Linked DNA regions of Homo sapiens: all the other regions are reported to be linked to region 3. Evidence: microRNA targets listed by miRTarBase, many of them from high-throughput screens and not tested one by one. Region 3 holds a microRNA gene; each other region holds the end of a gene's coding sequence.

Region 1 (6,262 bases), not on the chromosome of region 3:
TTAAGAACCAGCTTTTGTTTCTATTGATTTTCTCTATTATTTATCTGCTCTTATATCATTGTTTCTGCTCTTTATTACTTCTTTCTTTCTGCTTATTTTGGATTTAGTTTGCTCATTTTTTTCTGTTTTCTTAAGGTAGAAGCTTAGATCATTGCCTTGAGATGTTTCTTCTTTTCTAATGAAATAATTTATTGCCTTAATTCTCTCTAAGCGCTACCCATGCATTTTGATATGCTGTGTTTTTGTTTTCATCCAGTTCAAAGCACTTTCTAATTTATTCAGTCATTTCTTCTTTTATTCATGGGTTATTCAGAAGTGTATCACTTAGTATTCCAATATTTGGAGATTCTCTAGGTATCTTTCTATTGTTAACTTATAATTTAATTCTACTGTAGGACATACTTTGCCTACCCTTCCATACTTTGAATACTTTTCAATTTATTGAAACTTGTTTTGTGGCCTACAATATGTTCTACTTGGTAAATTTTCCATGTGCACTTGAAAAGAATATACAGTATTCTGCTGTTCCTAGGTAAAGTGTTCTATATCAATTGTCATGTCCTCTATATCCCTACTGATTCTGTTTACTTGTTCTACCAGCTGAAATCCTGAACTACAAATGTGGAGTTAGTTCTTCTTTCAATTGCATCAGTTTTTGCTTCATGTACTTTGAAGCTCTGGCATAAACATTTAAGATTGTTAGGTATTCTTGATGTCTTGACCCCTTTATCATTATGAATTGTCTCTCTTTACCTCTGTAAATTCTTTGCTCTGAAATCTTCTTGTCTATTATTAACATAGCTACTCCAGCTTTCTTCAGATTAATGTCTGCATGGCATATCTATTTCTATCCTTTTATACTTTTAATTTATCTGAGTCTTAGTATTTAAGGTGGGCTCATGTAGACAGCTCATAGTTGCATCTTCTTTTCTAGCCAATCTGATAATCTCTGCCTTTTAACTGAAATTTAGACCTTCTGTAATTAATGCAAATATCAATATCATATGGTTTAAATGTATTATCTTTGTTCCTTCTTTCCTCTTTTCCTGTCTTCTTTAGAATTAAATGAGTAATATTTATTACATTTACTCTCCACCATACAATAATTAGAGCTACTGTATTAGCTCTAACTCTGTTTGTTAGGTTTTAGAGATAACTCAAGTTTTACTTCATCAGTCTATTGTCAAATACCATTATGTCATTTCACAAATAGTCTAAGAATTACAAAAGTAAACTTCTATTTTCCTCCTCCTTTGTTTTTTTGCTAGTATTATACATTATACTTTTACATAAAATATCATTGCCATAGTTTGCCTTAAACGGTTATCTATTAGTGCTTAAAAAATTTTAAAGCCTATATATTTATCCACATATTTTCCATTTCTTGTGTTCTTTCTTTCTAAAGATCCAAATTTCCATCTAGTACCATTTTCTTTCTGCCTGAAAAACTTCCTTGAACATTTTTTATAGTGTAGATCTGCTAGTGATTAATTCTCTCAGCATTTGTTTGGCTGAAAAGTCTTTACTTCACCTTCATTTTTGAAAGATACTTTAAAGATACTGCTCCATTGCCTTTTTGCCTTCATATCTTCTGATGAAAAGTGTGCTCTCATTCTTATGTTTCTTTCTCTGAATGCATGTGTCATTTACTATCAAGTTTTAAGATTTTTCTCTTCAATTTAATTAGGACATGTCATTGTTTTGTTTTCATGTTGCTTCTCCTTAGGGTTGGTTAAGATACTTGGATCTGTGAGTTTATAGTTTTCATCAAATTGGGGGAAAATTTGACCATTATTTCTTCAAATATTTTTCTATCCCCCTCCATTCTTCTGAGAAGCCACTTACATATATATTAGACTGCTTGATAATGAAACACAAAACTTATACGCTTTTTTCTTTGTACTTAATGTTGGATAATTTATATAGCTATATATTCAAGTTCATTAATATTTTCTTCTCCAGTATCTAATCTCTTAATCCTATTCAGTGTATATTCTTACTTCAGATATTGTATTTTTCATCTCTAAAAGTTCTATTTGGGTCATTTTTATACCTTCCATTTATTTCTTCATTATGTTTTTATCTACTACTTGAACGATATTTATGGTAGCTGATCTACTGTATTTGTCCATTTTCACACTGCTATAAAGAACTACCTGAGACTGTGTAATTTAGGAAGAAAGGAGGTTTAAATGATGCAGTTCCACAGGCTTAACAGGAAGCATGGCTAGGAGGCCTCAGGAAACTTACAATGGCAGAAGGCAAAGGGAAGCAAGCACATCTTACCATGGTGGAGCAGGAGACACAGAGGGAAAAGAAGGAAGTGCTACACGCTTTTAAACAACCAGATCTCATGAGAACTCATTCACTATTATGAGAACACCAAGGGGTGTTCTCCATATCCATGGAGAATACTCCATATTCATATCCATATAGGTGTTCACCATAATCCAGTCACCTCCTATCAGGTCCCTCCCCCAACACTGGGGGTTACAATTCAACATGAGATTTGCGTTGGGACGCAGAGCCAAACCATATCATTTACTAATGCCATCATCTGTCATTCTCAGTCTATTACCATTGACTAAAGATTCTCTTGACTGTGGATTGCCTTTTCCTTTTTTTTTTCATGCCTGGTAACTTTTTATTAGATGCTAATCATTGTGAATGTTACACTTTTGGTGCTGGATTTTATTGTAGTTTTTATTTTTATTTTGATGGGTTTTCTCCCCTTGGATGCACTCAAGTTACTTGAAATCAGTTTGATCCTTTCAAATGTTGCTCTTAAACTCTGTTAGGGCAAGTCCAGAGTAGTCTTCAGTCTATTCCCATCTCCCTAACCTAACCCTAACCCTACTTTGCCAATATTTTGCTGAAGACTCTACTCAATGATCCATGTACTATATTAAAAGATCCACTATTGTTGAAACACATATTCTACCCAGCCTTGTATGAGCTCTGAGGAATTTTTCTTTGTTTTTCTTTTTTTTTGAGACAAAGTCTCACTCTGTTGCCTAGGCTGGAGCACAGTGATGCAATCTCAGCTCACTGCAACCTCTGCCTCCTGGGTTCAAGCTATTTTCCTGCCTCAGCCTCCCAAGTAGCTGGAATTACAGGCACCTGCCCATCATACCCGACTAATTTTTGTATTTTTAGTAGAGTCGGGGTTTCACCATGTTGGCCAGGCTGGCTTCGAATGCCTGACCTCAGATAATCCATCCACTTCGGCCTCCCAAAGTGCCAGGATTACAGGCATGAGCCACCAAGCCCAGCCCTCTGAGGAATTTTTCATCACTCCTTTCTCCTTCCTGTCATTTTTTCTCCAGCCTCAGGCAATTTCCTGCCTCGATTTTGTTTTCTTCCTTTAAGGAATGTTCTATTTTTATTTGGCAGATAAAATGAGGTTACTTAGAGATCATCTTGAGTCTCTCAAGGCTTATTTTTAAGCTTTCTTAAAATTGGTATACATTAGCCTTTAGTCTAGCTCCAGTTTGGATCTCTTATGAAAGTACAACCTTTCTGAGTCTCTACTCAATGCCCCACATGTTCAAGATCTTTCCACTTTAACTGGTTGGCATTCAAACTTCTCCCAGCTCAGTGTGAGCTCTGAGAGTTTTTCCTCTTATAACTCCCTGGCAGTTTTTCTTTTCACCTAATGCAACACATATGCATCTACGTCTATTTAATTATAAGTTAATAAACTTTTCATTTTAAAAGGCTTATATGTATATTTTCAGAAGCAGCAAGGTAGACAAAAAACACTGGTGAAAATTGTATCTGATCCTAAAGTCAGTCTTTTGGAGAAGACAATTTCATTAGATGGGTGCTGACAGCCATCGAGAGAAAAGGAAAGCAGACTGAGTTTCTGGGGACTACTGCAAGAAGAAAAAGAGAACATAGAGAGCTGGCCTCATCCTCAAAAGTGATCCCACATCTAACCAAATTAAAAAATCCACATGAGGTTTCTCAATACCTACTGTAAACAATTTATCAAGATACCTGGTTAGCACTTCGTGTACAAAGTGATAACCAGACGTCATTTTTCTTGGAAAAATCGGGGTTGGAACCACAGCTTTGACTTCATTATCAATATATTTAACCAACAATCTGGGCTCCTCTATGGAAGTGGCTTAAATGCCTTGCAGATTAACCATGGACTAAGAACTTTCTTTGATCTTGAATACTGTTCCAAAACACACAACCCCAGGGCTCCATTTCTCACCCAATATAATCATTCCTGAGCAGAGCATTATCAAATAGTATCAAGCCAGGAAACTGGCTTAGGGTACTAAGGTGAAAGGATTTAGCCAAGTAGCAACCCAAATATGAACAAGGAAATGAGCTTAAGACACATTAAGCATTTAGAATAAGCCCCACCTGACTGATGACCATGGTGGATTAAGCTTCATCTTTAATTATTGATATTAATGATCTACTGTGAGCAAGATGATCTCTAAGGTACTTTCTAATTGTGAAATATTATTCTGTCTTATGTATCAGACATAACTGATAGCCTATCACTACATGTGCTTTACTGACTACATTTCTGTCGGTCTTACTAAAAGTAAAGAGCTCAACTGTTGTCATCATCTAAAGGTGCCACCACTTTTATTTGTTTACCAGATCACCAGATGATACTGGTCCATTACCCTTGACCTAGTCAGACCTTGACAAAAGACTTAATGGTGCTATTTAGGATGCATTTCCTTGCTGCTTTGTGCAGGTGGCTTTCTCGTTGTTGCATAAACAGTGACGGGAACATCAGTTATTGTCAGGCAATGACTTCCAGGGCACCTCCGGAGTTGCCTGAATAAAAAAGCAGATGACATGTAGTTAGATACTAAAAAGAGGAAATATTTTTTTTCAGAGCACCAAAGTTTGATTGTATATTTAACTGTTTTAAATCACTTTGAAATCTCTGAATGTCATACAATGAGTACAACATGGTGATGCTGACGAGGCACCCATTTTAGATGGATATAACAAAGAAATTGTGGCCTCTGACGTACATATTTAATCACAGGAAATTCATATATTCAAAGATAATCCTCCGGATGTTGATTTTGAAAGGTATGCAATGATTGCTAAATGGCAAAACAAAAGTGCATAGTTACAAACATAAGTGACAATACCGTGGCAATTCATGTGCATTTGCACCCTAAATCACCTTAGTTGAGTGATTTCAAAACAAGAATGTTTGTGGTAAAATACAAAACTGAACATAGTATTCCACATACTGTTCAAATGTTGATAGAATCTCAGATTTGAAATGGCCCTTAAATGACACCTAGTTCAAAAATACATCGAATATATGAATTTCCTTTCCAACATTCCCACCAAATAGTCATTCAGCCTTTAGCATTTCTAAAGATCGGGAGCTCACTACTTCCCAAAGCAGCCCATTTTATCCTTGACTAACTCCGATTTTTAAATACCTACACCTGTTAAACTTAAATCTGTGTTCCCAAAATTTCCAAGCCATGAGAATCTAACAATGTAGTATTTAAGGTTTTGCTATGGTAAACATCAGAGAAATGGAACTAATCATTCTGCAAAAACACTTTGTCTCACAGAATCTTCAGATTCTATATCACTCTTTCTGCCAAAGGTCGCAGCAAAGCCAAAGTGATACTAATCAAAGCCAAAGTGACATTAACTCTGAGGTCTAAGTCTTTTTCATATTTTTAGCCTTATGCCTAGCACAGTGCCCTGTGCATACTAGCACTGAAGTTTTGTTTGTTTAATTGAATGTTATCTAATCGTGAAGCTATCAACAAAACAATCTATTAGGTTGGTGCAAAGGTAATTGTGTTTTTGTTGTTGTTGTTAATAGCTAAAAATGTACCAGAAAGACAGAGAATGAATTGCTCTATCATCAAGACTTACAGAAATACAAAATACAGACTCTACACTAAGGAAAACTGGGCTCTGTTAATACGCTAACTTAGAAACAACAATGTTTTTGAATTGCTGAGAGTTTTTTCTTGCTAATAATGAATATCAGCTGAAGGTTGTATTGATGATAGCCAATACATATCTCCTCACTTGTGAGGACAGAAGACTTTACCTGGTTGGTGACATCTCCTTCCCATTACAGGCAGCACTGGAGCTCAGCCCAGGTTCCAGCTCAATTGAAGAATCTCCTCCTTCCACTGGAAACCTCCTTGGCTGGGTTCCAAATTGAAAAGGCATACTTCACTGAAAACCTAGATCGGAAAGTTAAAATATTGAAAACCTAGATTAGAAAATTAAAATATTGGGG
Region 2 (6,262 bases), not on the chromosome of region 3:
GCTGACAGGCCTCGATGAGCCAGTTTCTAAGTCTGGCTTGTCTCATGGGAGGTGGCACTGGCTTCTCACAGGCCCTCCACACCCACCTTGCTAATGGTGACAGTTGAGGTGATAACTGTTTCCTTTTGCGCAAAGGGAGCGGGGAAGGGCTGTAAACCGAAGTGTGACTCTCTCCCAGGTGTCAGTCCGGAGGAAGTCCTGATAGAGGATGACGTCTGACCTCTACCATCGCCATTTTTGCTCCAACTGAGGAAACTACAGGGGAAGTGGGGATTGGATCCAGTTAGCTACCTCTTCAAGGTACCAGGCCCGCAGCACTAACAGATCACATCTGAAGAAACTGAGGGGCGTTAGGCCAAAGCCTAATCCCAGCTCCTCAGCTGCCCCATGGCACCTTATTTAAAATGTCACCTTCTGGAAGCAGACCCCAGGTCACCCGAAGGCGCAATTCTAAACACCCTCGACAGGATCTATGTTCAGTGCGCAGTCCAACGTGTCATTAGAGGGTGGGCAAGATTCTCTACCTCTGTCAAGCTGCCCTGAGACATGATGAAATACTGTGTACAGCAAGTTCTCAAATAACATTTCGTTATATGTTGATAAGACATCTGATTCCTGGGCAGGGCCACTGTCTGGGTGGAGTCTGTATGTTCTCCCCATGTCTCTGGGTTTCTTCTGGGTGCTCTGGTTTCCTCCCACGTCCCCAAGGTGTGTGTGTCAGGTGCACTGGCGTGTCTATGCGGTCCCAGTCTGAGTGAGTGTGGGTGCGTGAGCCCCGTGAGAGGAGGACATCCTGTCCAGGGTGGGTCCCGCCTTCTGCCCTGAGCTGCTGGGATTGGGCTCTGGCCATCTGCAACCCTGAACGTGCAGGTTGGAGAACGAATGAATACAAATTTTATTGTAAAATAAAAATGTATATAAAGCATATGAGCACACAAATGGACAATAAATGCCACAGCGCAAAAGCGTGTAGCGAGCCTGCCACGCTTGTGACTGGGGAGGGGCTCCGTATAATCTCACCTTTGCAAGCGTTTATTTACTGATGTATGCGGCCACCACTGTGACCACCATCACTTACCGATTCACCAAAACTTAGGTAATATGGTCTTATTTTTGATTTAATTAAATATACGTGTAGCTCATGTATTTCACAGTTTAATATGAGAAGTGCTTTGGTCTTTATTTAGAAATTGGGTGATGTTTTTGTGCCCAGCAACATGCTGTAGGAATTTAACTCTTGTTTACATCCATTAGCCTCATGGTTTTGCTTCAAGTCTCAGCTTCCAAGAACCTATCGATGACTTACTGTGCATGGTCTGAGACTAAGTAAAGGAAATTTCCTAAAGCTGTGAAATTTGAATTTTGCTTTAAATAAATGGAACTCACATGTGTCAAGGGATTGGGTTTGGTGAACTGAAGCCCTCTGCCCCATAATAGCAAATCAGTGGTAACACCAGCTGATTCACTTTTTCATGAGCCAGGCAGCCTTTGACCCCAAGACTTCCTTTTGGTGTTTGAATTCAAACAAACACTACAGAAACATGACTGTCTTTTCCCTTCCACCTGGAGCGACTTTAAGGGGCTGAGGCAGAACGTGGGGGCCCTGCCTTTGTTGTAAACCGATTTTAGGGGCCTGGTTATGCCGGGCATGCCTGAAAAGAGCCAGAAAACAGAAGCATTTTATGACTTTTATTTTACATGTCGCCAACGTTTGTACAACATACAGTGGCTACATCTAAAACTTTGAGCATTTTTTTATGGCGCAAAGAGACAGAAAGGTTAATGACACACTTAACTGTTACAGTGACTTTGGGTAGGGCCCTAAAGACAGCACACGCTCCAGAGGGCGGGCTGAGTGTTGTTCACACTTGGGTCCTGAATCGCTGTTGTAAGGTACAGAGACACACTTTAACTGGGGAATGGGGTCCCCACACAGTGATCGCCCCACGGGAGGGTGACAGAATATGCCAGGAATTGTCTTGGACATGGGCCCCAGTCACCACAATCAGATGGCTTATTTGAAACAAACAAACAAAAAAAACCCTTGATTACGACACACCAAAGCTGTTCCAATTTGTAAAAAACTGTAGTTATTACATTGCAATGAAATCTCTTTACCAAATCTTGGGCCAGTGTTTTACCTGGATAGTGCTTACATTATAAATATTGGTTTTTGCCCTTAGTGCTAACATAAGAAAAATCAGTTCCTTGTATACTCAATAACAGAGCTTGGACCAGCCAATGCTGTCTATTCACTCATGGCTATAATGCAGCCGACAGAATTGTTCACCATGGAATGTTTTATAAACCTGTTCATATTCCAGAGAGACAAAGACTCAAAACTACAAGTGCAAAGTTGGGTAGAGAGAGCTGCCAGAAACACTAGCTCATTAGGCATAGAGGCCACAGCAAATCAAATTGTTCCACAAACTCATTCTTCACACAAACATTTAAAACACTATGCAGCCAGGTGTGGTGACTCACACCTGTAATCCCAGCACTTTGGGAGGCCAAGGTGGTCGGATCACAGGGTCAGGAGTTCAAGACCAGCCTGGCCAACATGGTGAAACCCCATCTCTACTAAAAATACAAAATTAGCTGGGCATGGGCTGATGGGTACCTGCAATCCCAGCTACTCGGGAGGCTGAGGCAGCAGAATCGCTTGAACCCAGGAGGCACAAGTTGTGGTAAGTGGAGATGGTGCCACTACACTCCAGCCTGGCCAATAGAGCAAGACTCCGCCTCAAAAAAAAATTTATACAATGGCTTTTCCATTTTCCTGGCCAACATTCACTTCGACTTTCTAAAAAAGCTCAACCCAAAAGAAAGACAGGGTTGGTGTTTAACACTTAAACAGTATAAAATATTTACGAAACATTTTGTAAGCCCTCTTTCCTTAGCACTTAATAAAATCCAAATGGCCTAATATAAAAGTTTCTCACACGACAGTTTAAAAAGCATCTGCCCAATACACGATTTTGACATTCAGTCATGATTGTTTTAAAGTTTTATTGTAGACTTTGCTGTTGGATACAAAATGAAGGCATACAACTGTCACAGGCAGGGCAGTAAGTACAAAGTCTAAGCTGTAAAAACCGTTTGAAAATATAAACTCGTTTTTGGAATACATGTGTCAAAGGCTGCCCATGTTAATACCTTTGGTATAAAACGGTAACGATTCCCTTGACAAACCCATCCATCACCTGACGCACATTCACATCTCCTGGTAACTACTCTACCTAGTCTAGTCTCAACCACCCCTGTCAGTCACGACTCACTCCTGTTCCTTTGCAGGTGCAGAGGAGCCTGGGAGGTAGGTCACTGAGAACACCCGTCCTACATAGGCGCTGCGCCCAGCCGGGCTCCAGCAGGGGCCGCCACCTGTGCCCCACAAGCACACGTCCCCACCCACAGTCACACATATCCCTTAAACAAACATGAACACAGACACAAACCAGACCCAAAGTTATCTATCTACCCGCACATCCTCAACCTGTTCACTGCTGGCCACTCTACACTGTGTAAAAATCAGAGGCAAAGACAAGGGGGTCTGTGTTTATAGCAGGGAAGCTCCCTGGGGCTGGTGGTGTGAGGGTGTCCCTGCCTGGATGCCAGGCTGGGAGGACAAAGGGTATGGGCCACACTGAATTTCTAAGCAAAATGACTTAGAAAGTTAGCCCAGCTTCATGGGGAAGGAGGCTGAAGAGGAGCGGGATCCCAGGGAGGGGTAGTTTATGAGCTATGCCTGTCACAGGGTCAGATGGCCTTCCTGGAGTGGAGTCGGGTCAATCAGGAGAACAACTGGACGGGGCTGGAGTTGGGGAAAGAACCAGAAACAGAGCTGGACACTTACTGCCATGGAAAGTTCTGCTCCTACGCAGACATATGGGGTCCCAGTGAGCACCAGGCCAAAGACCAGCCCAAGGTGGCAAAAGGCTTGATCCCTAAACAAAGCCTTGCACCCAAAGTTGCACTGGTCTCAACGATTTAGACGCTCATTCAGCCATATTTCCACTGCCACAAGCTGCAATTATCAACAAGCTCTAGGCCCAAAGCCACATGGCAGAAAGCACGTCTAGCAAAGCAGTGGGGATTGTGCCCGGGCCAAACACACAGGAACCAGGAGTGGACCTGCTGGGGCTGGAGGATTATGAAATAGGAAGCAGGGAGCTCAGATACCTCTGGTGGCCTCCAACTGCAGGACAACTCTCAGAATTGTCAAACTGAACCCTTAAGGGAGTGTCACCCAAAAAGCCCACATAGGAAGTCGACACCCACAAAAATAAATATTGCAAACAAAAGTTCTCACATACACTTCACACTCATTCATACTTTTCCTCTGAGAACCGAGAAAGCCTGGCTCCAAAGAGTCTCAGATTCTCATGAAAAGTAGAGATCTTAGACACAGCTTGTTCAACGACAGGGGTCATACGCCTGGGTCAAGACAATCAATTTGCCTTGTCAAGCAATACCAAAATAATCATCTGGCTTGTTACAAAAGTATCTCCAGGCTCCAAGGGAAGCAGAAGGGGCCCGGCAGCCTGCACAGGATCTGGGTGTAGCACGGCAGGGAGTGGGGGCGGTGAGAGGAGGGCGGCTCGGTCTCTTGCCTGCTCACTGGTGGAGGTGGGCCCGGTCATCAGGGCGCTTGATGTGGATCCTCCGCACGCGCTCGATCCGCTCCCGCTCCTCGTCCTCGTCCAGGTGGTGGGAGCGCCCCGCCGCCCCGCCTGTGGCCTCCAGGAGCGCATTGTCAGGTCCCCGGCCATCCTGGGCCTCATACAGCAAAATGTTCAGGGTCTCCTCATAAATCCGGGCTTCGGGAAACTCCACCTGTGTTCCCACAGTATACAGGGCAGGTAAGTTATGGCCCACCCCCTCTGCCAACACCTGGACTTTAAGCAGGGCCGCCAGGCTAAATCAGGCCCCTGGGATTCTGCTGAAGGCCACCAGTATTATTTTTAAATAAACTGATATTTTCAATGGCAACACTTACATGTGGTGCTAAATGCACAGAAAATCAAGGGGATGCAGAGAAACAGGTCTCCCTGCCCCTAGTTTCCCTTCTTAAAGGTACAGTTTCTCATCATTTTACCCTCTCAAAGATTCTGTGCATGTAAATATGTGTAATACACATATTTATTCACACACTTCAAAAAACACACAAGGTGGCCCACCACACAGAGTTGTACATGTCTTCCTCTTGTGCCTAACTTAACCTAGAGATCATTCTGTATCAAGGAATTATAAATACGACAATGCAATTAACCATACTTGGATGGCCATTTAGGTCAGTGCTAATATGCTTCTCCTAACAGAGCTGCAACCTTGCACAGAAGTCCTTCCACACCTTAAAGCAGTCTCTAAAGCAGTTTTTTGTACAGGGTCCAGCTGGGGACTCCCACGAAATGGGCATGAGCCCTTCTGCTGTTTGGCAAATCATTGTGTTTGCTCATTGCCCTTCAGGGTTAAGGTGTGATGAACAGGAAGAGGGCCACATAAGCAGGTCCCACACATTTGATCAGACTAGACTCCACTTTCAGGGTGGAATTCGGAGGTTCTGGGAAAAATGGAGCAGGCACACTCTACCCCGTCTTCCTCACTGACACTACAAAGCCAGAATGGGATGCACACAGCAGCTAACTGTGGACTCAGAAGTAAATCATGGCAGGCAGATGGGGGAAACAACAGAATTTGGAGTAATGCCCAACAGTGAGTTTACTGTTTGCTGCTGCCAGCACTGATGCAGCCTGAAACCCTGAAATGGCACCAGGACAGAAGACCTCCAGAAGGTCTCTAGTGGCCAGGGAGGCCAACAGAGTCTAACAGGCAGAGAGGCTGGGAGGAAATCCTGGTTTTCTTTCCTTTTTTTTTAAAAGATATGGGATCTGGCTAATTAAGCTTTAAAATTTTAAGACTTCTCATTTTTAGAGCTTAATAAGGAGCAAGGGGATTTAGAGACCACATGGTCTGATCCCAACTGTTTCTTGATTCACAGACCAGGTTCAGGAGTGGCGTGTTCTTGTGTTTGTGAAGCTGGTTAGGGGCAGAGCCAGGACGGGAGTCCAAGGGCCTCTTTCTTTTCTCTTTTTTGTTTTGAGAGGGAGTGTTGCTCTGTCACCCAGGCTGGAGTGCAGTGGCACAATCATAGCTCACTGCAGCCTTGAACGCCTAGGCTCAAATGATTCTCCCACCTCAGCCTCCCCAAGTAGTTGAGACTATAGGCATGCATCACCATGCCCAACTAACTTTTTGTAGAGAT
Region 3 (4,000 bases):
CGTGAGCTGGTGGGACAGGCCCAGGTGCCACCTGATAGTGAGCTCACCCCCTGCCTACGTCCCCAGATGGCCTCACAGGTGCATCATAGCCGCTCCAACCCCACCGATATCTACCCCTCCAAGTGGATTGCCCGGCTCCGCCACATCAAGCGGCTCCGCCAGCGGGTAGGGAATATGGGGCTCCCTCAGCGGGGTGTGCTGGCTGCCCAAGCTGTGGGGCGGGTGTGTGGGCAGAGCGGTTGCCACGCCTCCCAGACTTACTGCCCAAGCCGCCTCTGCCTTCAGATCTGCGAGGAAGCCGCCTACTCCAACCCCAGCCTACCTCTGGTGCACCCTCCGTCCCATAGCAAAGCCCCTGCACAGACTCCAGCCGAGCCCACACCTGGCTATGAGGTGGGCCAGCGGAAGCGCCTCATCTCCTCGGTGGAGGACTTCACCGAGTTTGTGTGAGGCCGGGGCCCTCCCTCCTGCACTGGCCTTGGACGGTATTGCCTGTCAGTGAAATAAATAAAGTCCTGACCCCAGTGCACAGACATAGAGGCACAGATTGCAGTCAGACAGCTCTTTTATTGACTTTGTCTGCTTGGTGCGGGGGTTGGGGGGGTGTCGAGGCTCTAGAAGCGGCCATGCCCACAGAAGTGGTACACAGAAGCAGGCACAGCCAGCTCCGAGGGCCTTGAGGCTGCCTGGGCCATACAGCACACTCGCGCGTGCGCGCGCGCACACACACACACACACAGTCACCTTCCTCCACCCTGGGAGCCAGCCCCCAGGAGGAGTCTTTTCCTCTAACCACCCTGGGGTCCTCTGACATGCCTAGTCCTGCTACTTGCCCAGACCTGATGCCAGCAGGCCTGGGCGCTGCTCTCTTGCTACCTGGCCTGGGGCAAGGGAGGATGACAAGGCCTCTGGGGTGATGAGAGTGCCTGGCAGACAGCTGTGCCCCCAGCACCGGCCCAAGGCCAAGCTCGCATCCAAGCAGCAGCCGGGCTGCCATAACGCCACCACACCTACCAAGCGCAGCAGGTGTTGGGGGAGGCCAGCTCTGGGCGCAGGCCCCTCAGCCCTAGTGAAAATAGTGACATACAAAAATATACACATTTTAACACCATATAAATTACTGACACGAGACACACAGTGAGACGGTGCAGGGAGTACGGTAGGAACTGGAGAGGTAATAACTTAGGGGCAGGGTGGCGGCGGTGCAGGCTAACCCTCCCTGAAGCCAGCAGCCTTAGCAGTGGGGGACATCTGCCCAGGGGGTGGGGCCGGGCACAGCCCGCTGTACCTGAGGACTCGGGGAAATAAATTAGCATCTCAGAGGCTAGAAACCGTCCAATACTGCTGTGTCCTTCCCAAGGGAGCTGGGGAGGGGACCCTGGGTCCTGGTTGGCCACACAGCCTCTTTAAAGTGCTGAAGCCCACAGACAGACAGATGCCCCTGCCTGCTCTCTGGGGAACCTACGTGCAGCCATTCTGCCTGGCCCTCGGCCTTGACAGCGGCAGAAAGTAATACTGAGCGGTGTCCACTCCGACTCCACGGCCCACCCCCGCCAGGAAGGAGGACTAAGTGCTGCTGGGGTGGACCTTGTTCTTGGCCCGAAGGGGTGTCCTGCTGGGGCCAGTGGCCAGGTCCACACCCCGACTGGCCCGGGCAAGGCGGCTGGGCAGTGCTGGCCGCAGGCCCGGGGATGGGCCACGGGAAGATCCGGCGGGCGCCCGGCTGCTCCTGCGGCCTTGCAGGCTGTGCAGCTGCTGCTCCAGCTGGTAGACGTCCTCTGTGGCCTGGTTGAGTCGGTCAAACTGGGTGAGCAGGGCCTCGAACACGGCTTGGAGGCGGGAGGGCTCAGGCTCACACCTTGTCCCCAGCCGGCCCAGGCTCACGCTCAGCCCATCCAGCTGGCTGGAGGAGGTGGAGGGGTGCGAGGCATCGGAGCCAGCGCTGGGTGGGGGCACATCCGGGGATACCTTGGAGCCCCTGGAGGAGCGAGAGGGCAGCGGCTCCATCCCTTCAAAGCGGACTTTGTGGCGGAACTGGGGGCGGCACAGGGGCTCAGTCAGTCCGGCTGCACCCTGGGCAGAGCCCAGGGCGTGTCCCTCTCCCCCCCACTGGGCCGTACCCACCTCCTTGACCTTGCTGAGGCCCATCCAGAGGCGCAGCCTGCGCAGGAACAACTCCACCATCTCGTAGTCCTGGGGCTCCCAGGCCGGCCGGTACAGCTCTCCACGCAAGGCGTGGTAGCGCCAGCGGAGAATAACAGCCCCCAGCCGTAGGGCGCCCCACAGCCGCAGTGCCCAGAGCCCCACACACAGCAGGGGTGACAGGTGCCAGGACTCGGCAGGACACAGGGTAGAGAGCCCAGTCCCAGGGCACAGCACCAACAGGGCCTGGGCCACGCTCCAGAGGGAGTCCACACAGGAAGACACGAGCTGCGGGGAAGGCGACACCAGTGAGGGCGTACAGCTGAGCTGAGCTGAGCTAAGACGCCCTCCCCGGCCGCGCAGTCACCTACCAGGATGGCCAGCTGGGCGTAGGCTACCCCGAGCACCACCAGGCCCAAGGTGACCCCCAGGAGCTCTGGCAGAGCTCGGCATAATGTCTTGCCAAAGACGGACCACTGGCGCACGAAGCGTAGCTGCTGGGCAGCCTGCGGACGAGAAATCTGTCTGCTTGCAGCCCTGGGGTGTGCGCCCAGCCCCGCGCCCACCGGCCCAGCCCTCACCTTGACCAAAAGCAGGAAGAGCAGCGAGGCCGCCAGGCCACGGGCTGCGGAGCTCAGCTGCGCCACCTGGTCGAAGCTAGTGAAGCGGCGCGGGCGGCCGCGCACGAAACGGGTCCACTGGCGGTCAGCGGCACCCAGCTGGGCGAGGCGTACCAGTGCCGTGGCCGCCGTCAGCGCCACCAGCAGCCACCGCGCCCAGGCTCCGAGCCGCAGCACGCGCCAGCGCCCTTCCCTGTGCCAAGTACGGGCCTCGGCCACGGCGAAGTGCACGGCGAACAGCAGCAGGCACACCTGTGGGGGGCGCGGTCAGGAGGGCGGGAGGGACGCTGCCGGGGCGGGGCCCTGCGAGGGGGCGGGACGCTGCCGGGGCGGGGCCCTACGAGGGGGCGGGACGCTGCCGGGGCGGGGCCCTGCGAGGGGGCGGGACGCTGCGAGGGGGCGGGGCGCTGCGAGGGGTGAGACGCTGCCGGGGCGGGGCCCCGCGAGGGGGCGGGACGCTGCCGGTGGGAGGCGCGGGGTCTGGCCGGGGACGGGCGTACCGAGGTGAGCAGAGGCAGCGAGAGGCCCGCGCTGAGGCGGCGCAGCGCAAAGGGGCGGACGCTGAGGGCGGCCAGGGCGCGGCCGGCCGCCGGGAACTCGAGGCGCAGCGTGACGGCGGCGTGCAGCCCCACGGCCGGGCTGTAGCGCGTGAGCTCCAGGAACACAGCGCGGCTCCTGCGCAGAGGGTGCGGGTCAGTAGGAGCGGGTGGCAGGGCGGGAGCTGCGGGGACCGCGCAGTGCAGGCGTGGCTGAGGGGCTGTGGAAGCCGCCTAGGCCAGCGGGGGCCGGAGGAGTGAGGGTGGGCTCCTGGCTGGTGACTGCGGCCACCCCGGAGAGGGCAGGGGAGGGAGCTCCCACCTGTTGTCCAGCCAGTTGTGCAGCTGCAGGAAGCGCAGCCGGTCGCGGCTCTCCTCCAGGCTCAGGCCCAGCTCCTGCACGTAGCCCCCGCTGTCATACACGGCACAGGAGCCCCAGGACCATGCCCTGCCGGAGAGGGGTGGCGTGGGTGCCGCACCCCAGCCCTTCCGGCACCCCGGAGCCAGGCTGGTCAGGAGGCCGCGGCACTCCTGGAGAACTACTCCCTTGTCCTTGGCGTAGACGCCCGGGGCCCTCGCTCTGCTCACCCCAGCAGATCCGGCGCTGAATAGGCCCACGTCCCCGAGCCATTGTGAGGACTCTCCCAGCCAACGTCGTAATCGCTGGTGCTGAAGCCTCCTGCGGCCGAGCACGTGTGGACC
Region 4 (4,000 bases), not on the chromosome of region 3:
GAAACCTTCGAGCCAGAAGACAAGACAGTGAAGCAGGAACAGATTAACACTGAGCCTCTAGAAGACACAGTCCTGTCCCCGACCAAAAAGAGAAAGAGGCAAAAGGGGACGGAAGGGATGGAGCCAGAGGAGGGGGTGACAGTTGAGTCTCAGCCACAGGTGAAGGTGGAGCCACTGGAGGAAGCCATCCCTCTGCCCCCTACGAAGAAGAGGAAAAAAGAAAAGGGACAGATGGCAATGATGGAGCCAGGGACGGAGGCGATGGAGCCAGTGGAGCCGGAGATGAAGCCTCTGGAGTCCCCAGGGGGGACCATGGCGCCTCAACAGCCAGAAGGAGCGAAGCCTCAGGCCCAGGCAGCTCTGGCAGCTCCCAAAAAGAAGACGAAGAAAGAAAAACAGCAAGATGCCACAGTGGAGCCAGAGACAGAGGTGGTGGGGCCTGAGCTGCCGGATGACCTTGAGCCTCAGGCAGCTCCCACATCCACCAAGAAGAAGAAGAAGAAGAAAGAGAGAGGTCACACAGTGACTGAGCCAATTCAGCCACTAGAGCCTGAACTGCCAGGGGAGGGACAGCCTGAAGCCAGGGCAACTCCGGGATCCACCAAGAAGAGGAAGAAGCAGAGTCAGGAAAGCCGGATGCCAGAGACAGTGCCCCAAGAGGAGATGCCAGGGCCGCCACTGAATTCAGAGTCTGGGGAGGAGGCTCCCACAGGCCGGGACAAGAAGCGGAAGCAGCAGCAGCAGCAGCCTGTGTAGTCTGCCCCCGGGAAACTGAGGAACTAAAGAAAGCTGAAGGTGCCCACCTGGGCCACCAGAAGGTGACACCCCCAGAATCCCTCCCCAGAGACTGCACCAGCGCAGCCAGCAGGAGCCTGGCCTGGGAGGACGATTTATTATTACACTGGGGGTTTCCTTGGCAGCTGGGGTCATCAGGGTACTTTCAAGAAGGGCTCGTGCAGGACATCAAACAGCCTCCGGGCCTGGATGGGAGGGAGAAAAAAATGAGGAACCAGTCATTAAAGGAGCTGTTTCCTGGGTAAATCTAGAGTGGGGTTTTGGTTCTTTATTTTCCCCTATACCCTCAAGCATTTATCCATTGAGTTACAAACAATCCAGTTACAATCTTTTTAAGTTATTATTATTATTATTATTTTTTTTTTTTTTGAGATGGAGTCTCGCTCTGTCGCCCAGGTTGGAGTGCAGTGGCGCAATCTCGGCTCACTGCAAGCTCCGCCTCCCGGGTTCACGCCATTCTCCTGCCTCAGCCTCCTGAGTAGCTGGGACTACAGGCCCCTGCCCAGCTAATTTTTTGTATTTTTTTTTAGTAGAGATGGGGTTTCACCACGTTAGCCAGGATGGTCTCGATCTCCTGACCTCCTGATGCGCCTGCCTCAGCCTCCCAGTGCTGGGATTATAGGTGTGAGCCACTGCGCCTGGCTAAGTTATTATTATTTTTTTGAGACAGTCTCCTGGTGTCACCCAGGCTGGAGTGCAGTGGTGTGATCTTGGCTCACTGCAACCTCCGCCTCCTGGGTTCCAACGATTCTCCTGCCTCAGCCTCCCGAGTAGCTGGGCCTAAAGGTGCCCACCACTATACCCGGCTAATTTTTGTATTTTTAGTAGAGACAGGGGTTTCACCATATTGGCCAGGCTGGTCTCGAACTCCTGACCTCGTGATCCACCTGCCTTGACCTCCCAAAGTGCTAGGATAACAGGTGTGAGCCACCGCACCCTGCCAAGTTATTTTAAAATGTACCATTATTATTGACTATAGTCACCTGGTTGTGTTATCAAATAGTATGTCTTATTCATTCTTTCTTTGTGTGTGTGTGTGTGTGTGTGTGTGTGTGTGGTACCCATTAACCTTCCCCATCTCCCTGCCAGCCCCTAACTACCCTCCCCAGCCTCCAGGAACTATCCATCCACTCTTATCTCCATGAGTTCAATTGTTTTGATTTTTAGATACACAAATAAATAAGAACATGCAATGTTTGTCTTTCTGTGCCTGGCTTATTTCACTTAACATAATAATCCCCAGTTCATTATGTTGTAATTGACAGGATCTCATGTTTTTTTTGTTTTGTTTTGTTTTGTTTTGAAAAGGGTCTCGCTCTGTCGCCCAGGCTGGAGTGCAGTGGCACAATCTTGGCTCACTGCAACCTCCGCCTCCCGGATTCAAGCGATTCTCCTGCCTCAGCCTCCCAAGTAGTTGTGATTACAGGCACGCGCCACCACACCCAGCTCATTTTTTCATTTTTAGTAGAGACAAGGTTTCACCACGTTGGCCAGGCTGGTCTTGAACTTCTGGCCTCAAGTGATCTGCCCGCCTCGGCCTCCCAAAGTGCTGGGATTAGAGGTGTGAGCCACCGCGCCCAGCCAGGATCTCATTCTTTTTTATGGCTGAAGAGTATCCATTGTGTGTAAGTACCACATTTTCTTTGCCTGGTCATCTGCTGATGGACACAGGTTGGTTCTAAGTTTTGGCAATGTGAACTGTGCTGCAACAAACAGGAGTGCAGATACCTGTTCCATACACTGATTTCCTTTTTTTGGGGATATACCCAGCAGTGGGATTGCTGGATCATGTGGAACCTCAACTTTTCAGTTTTTAGAGGAGCCTCCAAACTGTTTTCCATAGTGGTTGTACTGATTTACATTCCCATCAAAAGTATATGAGGGTTCCCTTTTCTTCACATCCTCGCCACCATTTGTTATTGCCTGTCCACCATTTGTTATTGCCTGTCCTTTGGATAAAAGCCATTTTAAGGCCGGGCACCATGGCTCACACCTGTAATCCCGGCACTTTGGGAGACCGAGGTGGGTGGATCACCAGAGGTCAGGAGTTCAAGACCAGCCTGACCAACCTAGGGAAACCCCATCTCTACTAAAAATACAAAAACTAGCTGGGCATGGTAGCGAGTGCCTGTAATCCCATCTACTCAGGAGGCTGAGGCAGGAGAATCGCTTGGATCCAGGAGACGGAGGTTGCAGTGAGCTGAGATCATGCCATTGCACTCCAGCCTGGGCAACAGAGTGAGACTCCATCTCAAAAAATAATAATAAGCCATTTTAATAGAGCTGAGATGGTATCTCATTATAGTTTATTTTTGGTTTTTGGTTTTCTTTTTTGAGATGGAGTCTCACTCTGTCACCCAGGCTGGAGTGCAGTGGTATGATCTCGGCTCACTGCAAGCTCTGCCTCCCAGGTTCATGCCATTCTCCTGCCTCAGCCTCCCGAGTAGCTGGGACTACAGGTGCCCACCACCACACCCAGCTAATTTTTTTTTGTATTTTTAGTAGAGACGGGGTTTCACCATGTTAGCCATGATGGTCTCAATCTCCTGACCTCACGATCCACCCGCCTCGGCCTCCCAAAGTGTTGGGATTACAGGCGTGAGCCACCATGCCCGGCCTATTTTTGGTTTTTTTTGAGATGGAGTTTTGCTTCTGTTGTCCAGGCTGGAGGGCAGTGGTGTGATTTCAGCTCACTGCAACCTCCGTCTCCCGGGTTCAAGAGATTCTCCTGCCTCAGCCACTCAAGTAGCTGGGATTACAAGCATGCGCCACCACACCCAACTAATTTTTATATTTTTAGTAGAGATGGGGTTTCGCCATGTTGGCCAGGCTGATCTTGAACTCCTGGCCTCAAGTGATCTGCCCGCCTCGGCCTCCCAAAGTGCTGGGATTACAGGCATGAGCCACTGCACCCAGCCTCACTGTAGTTTTGATTTGCATTTTTCTGATGATCAATGATGCTGAGCACCTTTTCATATGCCTGCTTGCCATTTGTATGTCTTTTGAGAAATGTTAATTCAAATATTTTGCCCACTTTTTGATTGGATTATTATATTTTATCCTATAGAGTTGTTAGAACTCTTATCTTCTGATTATTGATTCCTTGTCAGATGGTTAGTTTGCAGATATTTTCTCCCATCCTGTGTGTTGTCTCTTCACTTTGTGGAATGTTTGCTGTGCAGAAGCCTTTTATTCTTTTTTTTTT

Evidence for each region. The annotated mature microRNA hsa-miR-1225-5p reads GUGGGUACGGCCCAGUGGGGGG and lies in region 3 at 2,103-2,124, opposite strand. An mRNA with a match to its seed (bases 2 to 7 or 8) in the 3' UTR can be bound and repressed. Matches are read on the target gene's strand: a 7mer-m8 pairs with bases 2 to 8, a 7mer-A1 pairs with bases 2 to 7 and ends in A, and an 8mer does both.
Region 1: the mRNA of FAM229B is a reported target of hsa-miR-1225-5p. The part of its 3' UTR that is shown has no 7-base or 8-base seed match.
Region 2: miRTarBase lists KCTD10 as a target of hsa-miR-1225-5p. Seed matches in the 3' UTR shown: 7mer-m8 at 2,614-2,620, 7mer-A1 at 2,357-2,363 and 7mer-A1 at 1,810-1,816.
Region 4: miRTarBase lists POLR1G as a target of hsa-miR-1225-5p. Seed matches in the 3' UTR shown: 7mer-m8 at 1,853-1,859.

What each region holds. Positions count from the first base shown.
Region 1 is chr6:112,099,214-112,105,475 of GRCh38, reverse strand. It overlaps FAM229B (family with sequence similarity 229 member B), which reads right to left. Exons shown (of 4, transcript NM_001033564.3): 3 at 6,068-6,206; 4 at 2,686-4,806. The coding sequence starts at 6,192. The coding sequence ends at 4,689. Among named protein-coding and RNA genes, the nearest start is that of FAM229B, 15 kb to the right of the region's middle. RefSeq lists an enhancer at 4,444-5,233.
Region 2 is chr12:109,446,981-109,453,242 of GRCh38, forward strand. KCTD10 (potassium channel tetramerization domain containing 10) reads right to left here. Exons shown (of 7, transcript NM_031954.5): 7 at 1,675-4,833. The coding sequence ends at 4,615. MYO1H (myosin IH) reads left to right here. Exons shown (of 32, transcript NM_001101421.4): 32 at 179-1,399. The coding sequence ends at 202. Among named protein-coding and RNA genes, the nearest start is that of KCTD10, 27 kb to the right of the region's middle.
Region 3 is chr16:2,088,161-2,092,160 of GRCh38, forward strand. MIR1225 (microRNA 1225) reads right to left here and starts at 2,124; the gene lies at 2,035-2,124. TSC2 (TSC complex subunit 2) reads left to right here. Exons shown (of 42, transcript NM_000548.5): 41 at 67-165; 42 at 286-1,331. The coding sequence ends at 450. PKD1 (polycystin 1, transient receptor potential channel interacting) reads right to left here. Exons shown (of 46, transcript NM_001009944.3): 40 at 3,887-4,000; 41 at 3,621-3,746; 42 at 3,263-3,437; 43 at 2,724-3,014; 44 at 2,514-2,648; 45 at 2,125-2,430; 46 at 548-2,034. The coding sequence ends at 1,567. PKD1-AS1 (PKD1 antisense RNA 1) reads left to right here and starts at 3,276. Exons shown (of 3, transcript NR_135175.1): 1 at 3,276-3,454.
Region 4 is chr19:45,408,746-45,412,745 of GRCh38, forward strand. POLR1G (RNA polymerase I subunit G) reads left to right here. Exons shown (of 3, transcript NM_012099.3): 3 at 1-1,992. The coding sequence ends at 756. It overlaps ERCC1 (ERCC excision repair 1, endonuclease non-catalytic subunit), which reads right to left. Exons shown (of 10, transcript NM_001983.4): 10 at 1-980. The coding sequence ends at 930. Among named protein-coding and RNA genes, the nearest start is that of POLR1G, 4.1 kb to the left of the region's middle.